Homo sapiens: one gene and its partner. The protein of the gene in region 2 purifies or fractionates together with the protein of the main gene of each other region. This does not show direct contact. Each region holds a gene or a part of one and is shown on either strand. Other genes may lie near its edges.

What was found. The genes of interacting proteins can lie anywhere in the genome.
Region 1: the proteins of UCP1 (region 2) and GSTM1 purify together in Homo sapiens (affinity purification with mass spectrometry, with the first as the bait; one large-scale study listed by BioGRID). This does not show direct contact.

What each region holds. Positions count from the first base shown.
Region 1 is NC_000001.11:109,686,326-109,690,616, reverse strand, and holds the start of GSTM1 (glutathione S-transferase Mu 1), read right to left. Parts: upstream 2,801-4,291; 5' UTR 2,744-2,800; coding exon 2,708-2,743; intron 2,501-2,707; exon of another isoform or gene 2,448-2,500; coding exon 2,372-2,447; intron 1,945-2,371; coding exon 1,880-1,944; intron 1,570-1,879; coding exon 1,488-1,569; intron 1,393-1,487; coding exon 1,292-1,392; intron 347-1,291; coding exon 251-346; intron 164-250; coding exon 53-163; intron 1-52. UniProt on the Homo sapiens protein: Conjugation of reduced glutathione to a wide number of exogenous and endogenous hydrophobic electrophiles. Involved in the formation of glutathione conjugates of both prostaglandin A2 (PGA2) and prostaglandin J2 (PGJ2).
Region 2 is NC_000004.12:140,566,162-140,570,295, forward strand, and holds the start of UCP1 (mitochondrial brown fat uncoupling protein 1), read right to left. Parts: upstream 2,801-4,134; 5' UTR 2,569-2,800; coding exon 2,443-2,568; intron 1,817-2,442; coding exon 1,618-1,816; intron 1-1,617.

The sequences.
Region 1 (4,291 bases), on a different chromosome or scaffold from region 2:
AGGAGGTAACGGAACAAGGGGCATCAAAGAGAAAGGAGGATGGGGGCATCACCTCAAAGCGGGAGATGAAGTCCTTCAGATTTGGGAAGGCGTCCAAGCACTTGGGCTCAAATATACGGTGGAGGTCAAGGACATCATAGACGAGAAAATCTACAAAAGTGATCTGCAGAAGGCCAAGAATATGTGGGCTGGAACCTCCATAACACGTGAAGCAAAACAGATCTCATTCCCCATATCACTCCTCCTTTACCTTGTTTCCTGCAAACCATGGCCGCTTCCCCAGAAACTCTGAGTAGAGCTTTAGCTTTTCAGGGAGTTCCTCCAAGTACTTTGGCTTCAGTTTCTCCTGAGGCAGAAAACAGCTGTCACCACCCTCGGACAAAAGCTCCCTGCACAGACGTGGCCTCCCCGGGGCTGTGGACGGCCCAGGCTGGCCATGGGCAAGCAGCCATCTTCCCCAAGCTGGAACTGGGGCAGTGCCCAGGCTTCAATTGGATACATCAGCATTTATTAGACTCTGACTGAGTGCCAGACCCTATCTAAACTGATCAGAAGGCAGAGAGGAATGAGATGCTGTCCCTGAATCTGTCCTCACTGACCTCCCAATAGCCTCTGGGTCAGCCCCAGGAGCGCCCAAGCACCTGGCAGCCTCTGGATCCAGACCAGCAGAATCAAGGATGCAAAGAACTAAGGGAGCTCAGGGAAAGTAGAAAGTTCCTTCTAATGGGGTGGCAGAAGAAAACAATGAACATTGACTAGTTTCCAGGGAGATGAGAAGTTCAAGTTGAAAGGAAGGAGGGAGAGGAATAAAGGCCCTCTGACTGCCTCTGAGCTGTCTGTTATGAAAATGCGCAGATCCCTGTGCATGTCAATGACAGCACTCAGAAAACTGTTGAGGAGAAGATGCAATTCGAGGGTGCCATTACATTCCTGAGTCTTCTACTTGAGTCTGCATATTCTAGGAGCAGGCAGGTGATGTGAACTGGCTGACAGAAATGACCCAGGACAGAAGTCAGAGGCCAGAGCTGATGAAGGAGATTCTGAACACAAACTTTACCATACAGGAACTGAATTTCTACCCTGGGATGCCTGGATCGTGTCCTAAGGTTGGTGGGAATTGCCTCTGCTTTTGTTGACATGACATTGGAGTCGTGAGAATAACTGCTGATAGTATGGGAAAGCACTTGGAGGATGAATGGTACCAGGGACTTAAGACCAGTGTGTGCAGGAATGCAAGAGTCCTGGCCCCAAATCCAAACTCTGTCAGATGCAGCTCACTGGGGACACTCACAAATTCTGGATTGTAGCAGATCATGCCCAGCTGCATATGGTTGTCCATGGTCTGGTTCTCCAAAATGTCCACACGAATCTTCTCCTCTTCTGTCTCCCCACCTGCCACCCACAAAACACAGACTCAATCTCAGCATCACAGCCCAGCCAAGGAGGAGGCCACCTTCCCCCCACACATTGCAGCCACCCACACTCACACAGGTTGTGCTTGCGGGCAATGTAGCACAAGATGGCGTTGCTCTGGGTGATCTTGTGAGCCCCATCAATCAAGTAGGGCAGCTGGATGGATGGGAAACCGGCGAAGCTCAGTTGGGCCACCAGGCTCCCCAGCATCCCCTTCCCATAAGCAAGAGCAGAGAGGAGACCGGGCACTCACTGTGCCTGCTCATGGCAGGACTGAAATAAGAATACTGTCACATGAACGAATGCAGGTGGACACAGAACATCATGGAAGGACTGTTTAGACAGCCAGGAGTGAGAGGAATTGGGCAGAAGACTCCTGATCTTAACACCTCTAAGCTGGGGAGAGGAGATGCAGTCAGAGACACGTTGCACTTTCCCCCAAAACCGCCCCTTCCCCTGCACCTACATTGGGAAAGTCCAGGCCCAGCTTGAATTTTTCATTCAGCCACTGGCTTCTGTCATAATCAGGAGCTGTGGTGGGGAAGAAGAAGTGAAAACAAACCTCCCCAGAGCCCAGCCCTCCTTCCCGGGGACCCTCCCACGGAGCCAGTGGCAAGATCCCTGAGACAGGTGGATCTAGAATCTGACCACTCAGTCCCACATCCCAGGGTTCAGGGACAAAGAATCCCGCTGAGGGCTCTGGACCCCACACAGCTAAGGCTTCCAGGGTTTAGGCAAGCCCTGAGGGACACCCGTCCCAATTAGACAGGGGGCCCAGCATCCCACCCCAGCATTCTGCCTTGCAAGGCCAGAGGGCTCCCTCACCGGGGCTCAGGGAAGAGACAGCCTGCAGCTCCAGCAGGGGAGGCCTGCAGAGGCAGCCACAGGTGGCCACCATGGGTTGCTTGGTGCCAACTTAGCGTGAGTGGGCAGAGCCCGAACACGAGGGTGCCATTACCGTCCCCCATCGTGTACTTCTTTTCCTCATAGCTTGAGTCTGTGTATTCCAGGAGCAGGCGGATGGCGTGGGCCAGCTGGGAGAGATGGCCCGCAGGTCGCGTCAGAGATGGAGGGTCCCTGACTTTGTCTGCACCAGGGAAGCCCCCAGTTTACACTGCACGTACCCGTTGCCTCCTCTACCCGCCCACACCCCCAACACACACACAGCGGCATGCACAGGCCCTTCTGAGGCGGGCAGCCCTGAAGAGGAACGGTCCCTAGAGTCCGTCCCGCAGCTGCTTCGCACTTCCCTCCCCTGCGCCCTCGTCCCACCGTCCAGCGGACCCTCGCTCACCCCGCGGATGTCCCAGTACCCCAGTATCATGGGCATGGTGCTGGTTGGTGCGGATTCCGCAGACAGGCCTAAACCGAGCAGGGCTCAGAGTATAAGAGCTCCGGAGAGGGGACAGGCGGGGCCTTGCTGCGACCCCGCCCCTCGGCCCGCCACAACCCGAAAGGCGCCATTCTGGAGGCCCGGGAGAGGGCGCCTGGGGCTGCACTCAGTAAGACTTCCTCCCGCCTCCCAGGCCCGAGGGTTCCGGGAGCGAAGTCAGGGCGCCCAGAAGCCCAAGGCGGGGCTCGGCCTCGCCAGCTTCCCTACCCAGCCCTGAGGCTCCACGAGTCCATCCAGCCCTTGCTAGGTCCACAGCGACTTGGCTGTGCGCTTGAGACACCAGCCAGATCCTAACGGAGCAAAGCTCTTCTCCCTTCTCCTCCCTGCCCGCGGTGTCCCTCAGCCTTCTCTCCGCTGCCGAGTTCCCAAGGGCTCTGGGAGACTCCGGCTGCAGGGGTCAGACTAAAAAGTGGTGGCCCCAACCTGGGAATTTAATTCAGCCCCTGTCACTGTAAGAGCAGGACTTCCTCTGATCCGAAAGCTACTCCCAGGGCTTAGTCTCCCCTCTAGCCCCGCCTACACAGGAACAGTGTCAGTGGTATAGGAAGGACCCCCAGGAAAAGGGCCAGAGTAAAGGAAATGTGGTCTGTGTTTTCTGTTAGGGGCCCTCGGGTACTGAGTCCTTCGGTCATCTGGCTAAGTACTGTGTAAATTAGCCACTTCGTATTTTGGCACAATTTATGAATCGAAATCCAAGGATCAGATCCAGCAAGTTGGTGAGGTATCTGAGGTGCCCCCTAGAAATGTCCAGCCAGTCCACTAGGTGAACCTCACAGAGACCGGAACAGCAACAGCAACAGTGAGTGCAGTGGCCACAGAGAGCAGGCGAGGGAGGATGGAAGAACTTCCCGGACCAAACTGAGGGTCCGGCTGCTATTTCTCTAGGCCCAATAACGAGATGCAGATCAAATGGGGAGGAAGAGAGGTTTTATTTCTGCAACCGGTAACAGGGAGAAGGCCTAGAAATTACCACCAGACCAACTCAATATTACAAAGTTTTCCAGAGCATATATACCTTCTAAGGTATATGTCTACAAGTAAGTGTGCATTCATCTAAAGACATAAGTGATTAACTTCTTTAATCTGTAACTGAGGTCTGGGTCCTGAGGACCTTATTCTGGAGCCTCAGTCTATTTATTTAATCTAAATGGGTCCAGGTGCGGGGGATGATTACCCTTATCTTGTCTCCTGCTAAATCACGGAGGTTTGGGGAGTTCCTTCAGACGCCCAATAAACTTGTTTGTGGAGGCCTGGGGAGTTTCTTCAGACTCACAATAAAACTTGTTTAATTCTAAATAGGTCCTGTTAAGAATTCCTTCATTGTTTTGTCATGCTTTAAGGCCCAGGAAAGGCCTAAGCAAAACTCTTGGTGGGCTTTTGTTACATCCAGCCTCTGTATAAAGGTACTGGCTTTTTTCAGCTTTTAATATTTAACTTCACCACTCAGTCAGTACTGAAACAGTTGTTATGGAGGCCTGTGTTAGT
Region 2 (4,134 bases):
TGAGAATGTATCCCCATCGTTAAGTGAAGTAGGACTGTATTGTAATACAGCATGTATCATGGAATATAGTCATCTATTCACTTCTCCCCACACAACCCATACTCTCAACTGTAAGCTCTGTCTAGAGACACATCTGCCATCTAAACATCTAACATAGTTACTGGCACATGGCAGTTCAATAAAGCCTACTAAATAAACTGAATCTATATAACATAGAACACTGCCAACATATATCCTATTAATTTGGTGCCCAAAGTCCACAACAATTGGTAGAACAGTCAATCTGTGAAGAAAACCACCTGAACGGGCAGCTTTACCTCCTTTGTGTTTCCTCTCTTGCTACATCTATAAATAAAAAAATGCAGTTTTGATCTAGTAACATCCAGACTTTATCTTCACTTTGAAAGTACTTGTGTGGATAAGTATAACTTATATATTTGTATAGACAACATTTATAAATTATCCCATAAAATTATAGTATTGAAGGTTACTCACAGCAGAAATGATGAAATCTACAAGGTGGATTTCACTTAATGTATTCATTGTGCCATCAGCACATCTTCTCTCTGGCTTGTCTACTCCACATGAAAGTGCCTCTGATGTTGATTAGCTGTGTGATTTTGTGCATGTTACTTAACTACCCTGATATTCGGCTAACACTTTTTACTCACAGCAGTGTTGTGCGGTTTGAATGATGGGCAGAATCATATGAGAAGTGCAGAAGGCAGTAGAGAACAGGGTTAGGAGCCTGGAGTCCGAGGCCAGACTGCCTGGGTTTGAACCCTGGCTCTGCCCCCTCCCAGCTGTGTGACCTTGGGCAAGTGATGAATCTGCTCTGTGTTCAGTTTTCCCATCTGCCAAGGGATAATGGTACTAATACCCTTCCAGTTATAATGTATCTGAAGCACTTAGAACAATGTCTGGTTCATAGTTAAGCCCTCAAATAAATGCTACCTAAAGTGACAGGAATTCTTAGAGTGCACTGGCACTCAGGAAATATGTTTCCTTTTCTTTTTCCCCTAAACAAACTCCCTGCAGCATTCGTCCACTTTTTCTGCTCTGGTCTTTCCTGGACCTGATGAGGAACCTCTTAAGAGGAAATATGTCTTTTCCTGTCCTTTCAACTCTCTTCACAAAGTCTGGCTTTCTTTGCTTCAAACAGAAGGCTTTGAACTTTGTTGCATACACAAATGATGAGGGAAGCTTGTGGAAAGACACTCTGGTCTCTAGCCTGAGGATTCAGACTCAGAGGACCATGGTAGTCCTCGTTTGGATTTCTGACAAGCTCCATAGATGTTTCTGATATACTTCCCTCTTTGGAGAACTTTAAGTTAAACATTTTTCTGTAGCCCACCCATATTCTCCAGATGGAGATCCAAACTGGGCACAAAACTTCCATGACTGGGTGACCTTTACAAGTATATATCTGCATCTAAAAAATCGATTTTGCATACTTTTTTCTATGAACAATGAGCTAATGTTTGGGGAAGGGAGAGTTCAAATATGAATGTTTTCTCGCCAATTTGTTATGAAAACCACTCCTCTGTGTGTTACACTTTTTGGAACAGAGCGGAGCCCAAGGCTTTTCTGCCCCTCCCAGGAACGCTCACGGCTTACTTTCTTTCCCTGCGGTGAGGAACTCCTGGACCGTGTCGTAGAGGCCGATCCTGAGAGAGGCGGAGCTGATTTGCCGCTGAAGCCCCGCAGGCAGCCCGCTGTAGAGTTTCATCCGCCCTTCTGTTTTTACCACAGCGGTGATTGTTCCCAGGACACCTTTATACCTAATAACACTGGACGTCGGGCATTCACCTTGGACCTGGAAATAAGAAAGGTGCAGAACAGAAGGGAGCGAAATTGAGTTCACTCTTAAGCCAAGATTTCCCCCTGTGTTCCTATTTTCCGTTTCTTTTCTCAGCAACATTCCTCTTCCATCCACCTCCCTCTACCGTGTGTGTGTGTGTGTGTGTGTGTGTGTGTGTGTGTGTGTGTGTGTGTTCGCTCACGCGCAGATGGAGGGAGGCTGGCTACAATGCACATTTTGAATATCCCCCTCCCCAGGAACTCTCCAGAACCCCTAGGGCAGTAGGATAGGACAGAACCCCCGAAGAATCAAAGAAAGGAAAAAGCACCTGACTAGTAAACTCAGGAGAGGCCAATATTCTCAGCTCTTAAAATACTAAGTGCACCCTAAATTTTGGGAGAATTTGGTAGTAGTCATGGTCAACCCATTCTCTGTGGCCCTGGTGGTTCTTCAGCTAATCCCAGAAAAAGTTCCAGTTTCCCATCCTAAAGCACCAGCCCTGGGACAAGGCCAGACTGCTTTGGAAGGTCACCTACCCTACCTAGAAACAGTGGTTACACCAAAGCAGAGAATAAATGGAATGCACGCAACAGCGTCCCCTCTGTCCTGAGACCCCTTGTCTTACCCCTCTGCCTAGCTACCTGGAGCCGGACTTTGGCCGTGTCCAGCGGGAAGGTGATCACGTCCGCCAAGCACGCCGCTATTCCAGCTGAGAAGAGCTGGACCCCCAGGGTCGGGTGTACGTCCGAGGCTGTCAGGCCCCCCATCTTCACTCAGAGACTGGAGATGCAGAGGAAAAGGGCTCCAGCCCCGAAGGTGGAGGAAGTTCCTTTCCCTTGCTCTTCACGCCTGTCCGCCGGGCAGCAAACCCGATTTCTGTTTTTTGAACCGACCGCCGGGCAGCGGCGGTGCAGAGGCGGCGGCTGCAGACGGAGCGCGGTGTTGGGGGCCGAGTCCCCGCGTCCCCTCCTACCCACCCTCGCGCCAGCAGGACCCTCTGCGTTCCGGTCTTCCGCTGGGACTTATATAGCTGGGCCGCTCCCGGGCTGGGCCGCGCGAGGTCTCAGAAGACCCGGGCGTGGGACCTGCCGGGGGCGTGTCCGGGAGCACCGGGTCCCTCCCATTCCCATTCTCGCTCGGTGCCTCGGGAGCCCTGCTTCGCTCCCCGAAAGCCCTGGGCCGGCCGCTGGTTGTCTGCGCCCCGCACACCGCACGTCGGAGGGAGGGCGCACCGCGGCGGTCAGCACCCGCGCCCCCGCACGTGCCTCACCTTCTGTCACCCTTTGGCTGCACACCTTCGGCTGGGGCTTTCGGAAACCAGCACGATATCAGAGCCTTGGTGAAAGGTTCTGCCTAGCTGGAGCTCTCCCAGAAGGAAGAGCGGGGCACTCTTCCATTCCTCCAACTCCCCAGACATCTTGCAGGCACCTTGCGGCCTTCTCTGCTTCCCTTTCCTCTCCTTTAAACTTCTCATCCTCCTTCCTCCGGATTCCTTCTCTTCCCACTACCAAATTCAGACTTGGAAGAATCCCACACAGGAACCAAGAGCACTCTGAACTTGTCAAAAAGAGCGTTTCGTTTCATCACTTTTTGAGAGAAGATGTCAAACGAGACAATAGACACACTAGAAAGCAAATAGTACATTGCTAAAGCACCGTACAAAATGAGATACCACCTGTTCCTTCTAATTAGATTTCTTAGAGGGTGCAGTGGAAAGGACAGGGCAGGTTGCTTGGCTCCAGGTGCAGCTCTCCAGCTTACCAACTCTGTGAACCTGGGAAAGTCATCTGTACTCCAGCTTTTATTTTCAACAGTGTAAAATGTGGTTCCAGAGCTAGCCCAGGTCTGAAATCTCCCTGCTAACTTACCTATAATGATGTAATATGTGTTGGTTGTGTGGCCTTTCCTAGTTCGATCTTTGTGCAAATTTTATTTTCAATGTTTATTCTTGTGAAAACTTAAGAAAACAAAAAACTTTTAAAAAAAACAGTGGGAAATAATAGGAAACTGGAGAAAGAGGGAAATGGACAAGGTCAGGTCCCAGCTTTCAGAACCTCTCAGTTAAGCCAAAGATGGATTTGATATTACCAGAATCCACGTCCAGCTATTTAGGGCCTCTGGTACTCAACCCTGACTTAAGCCCCCCAAAAGAGTCAGTGGAAGTCAGAGTCATCTCCTCCAGGAGCAGGAGAAATAAGACATGAATAAAGAATAATCTCCAAACCCTCTATAAGTAAAGGTTGTGTACTGTGCAAGAAGCCAGTCCTAAGGCACTTCCAAGGGAGGTCAGGCTTGCAGAGCTTCCCTGAAAAAGGCAATGTTGACCTGACGGG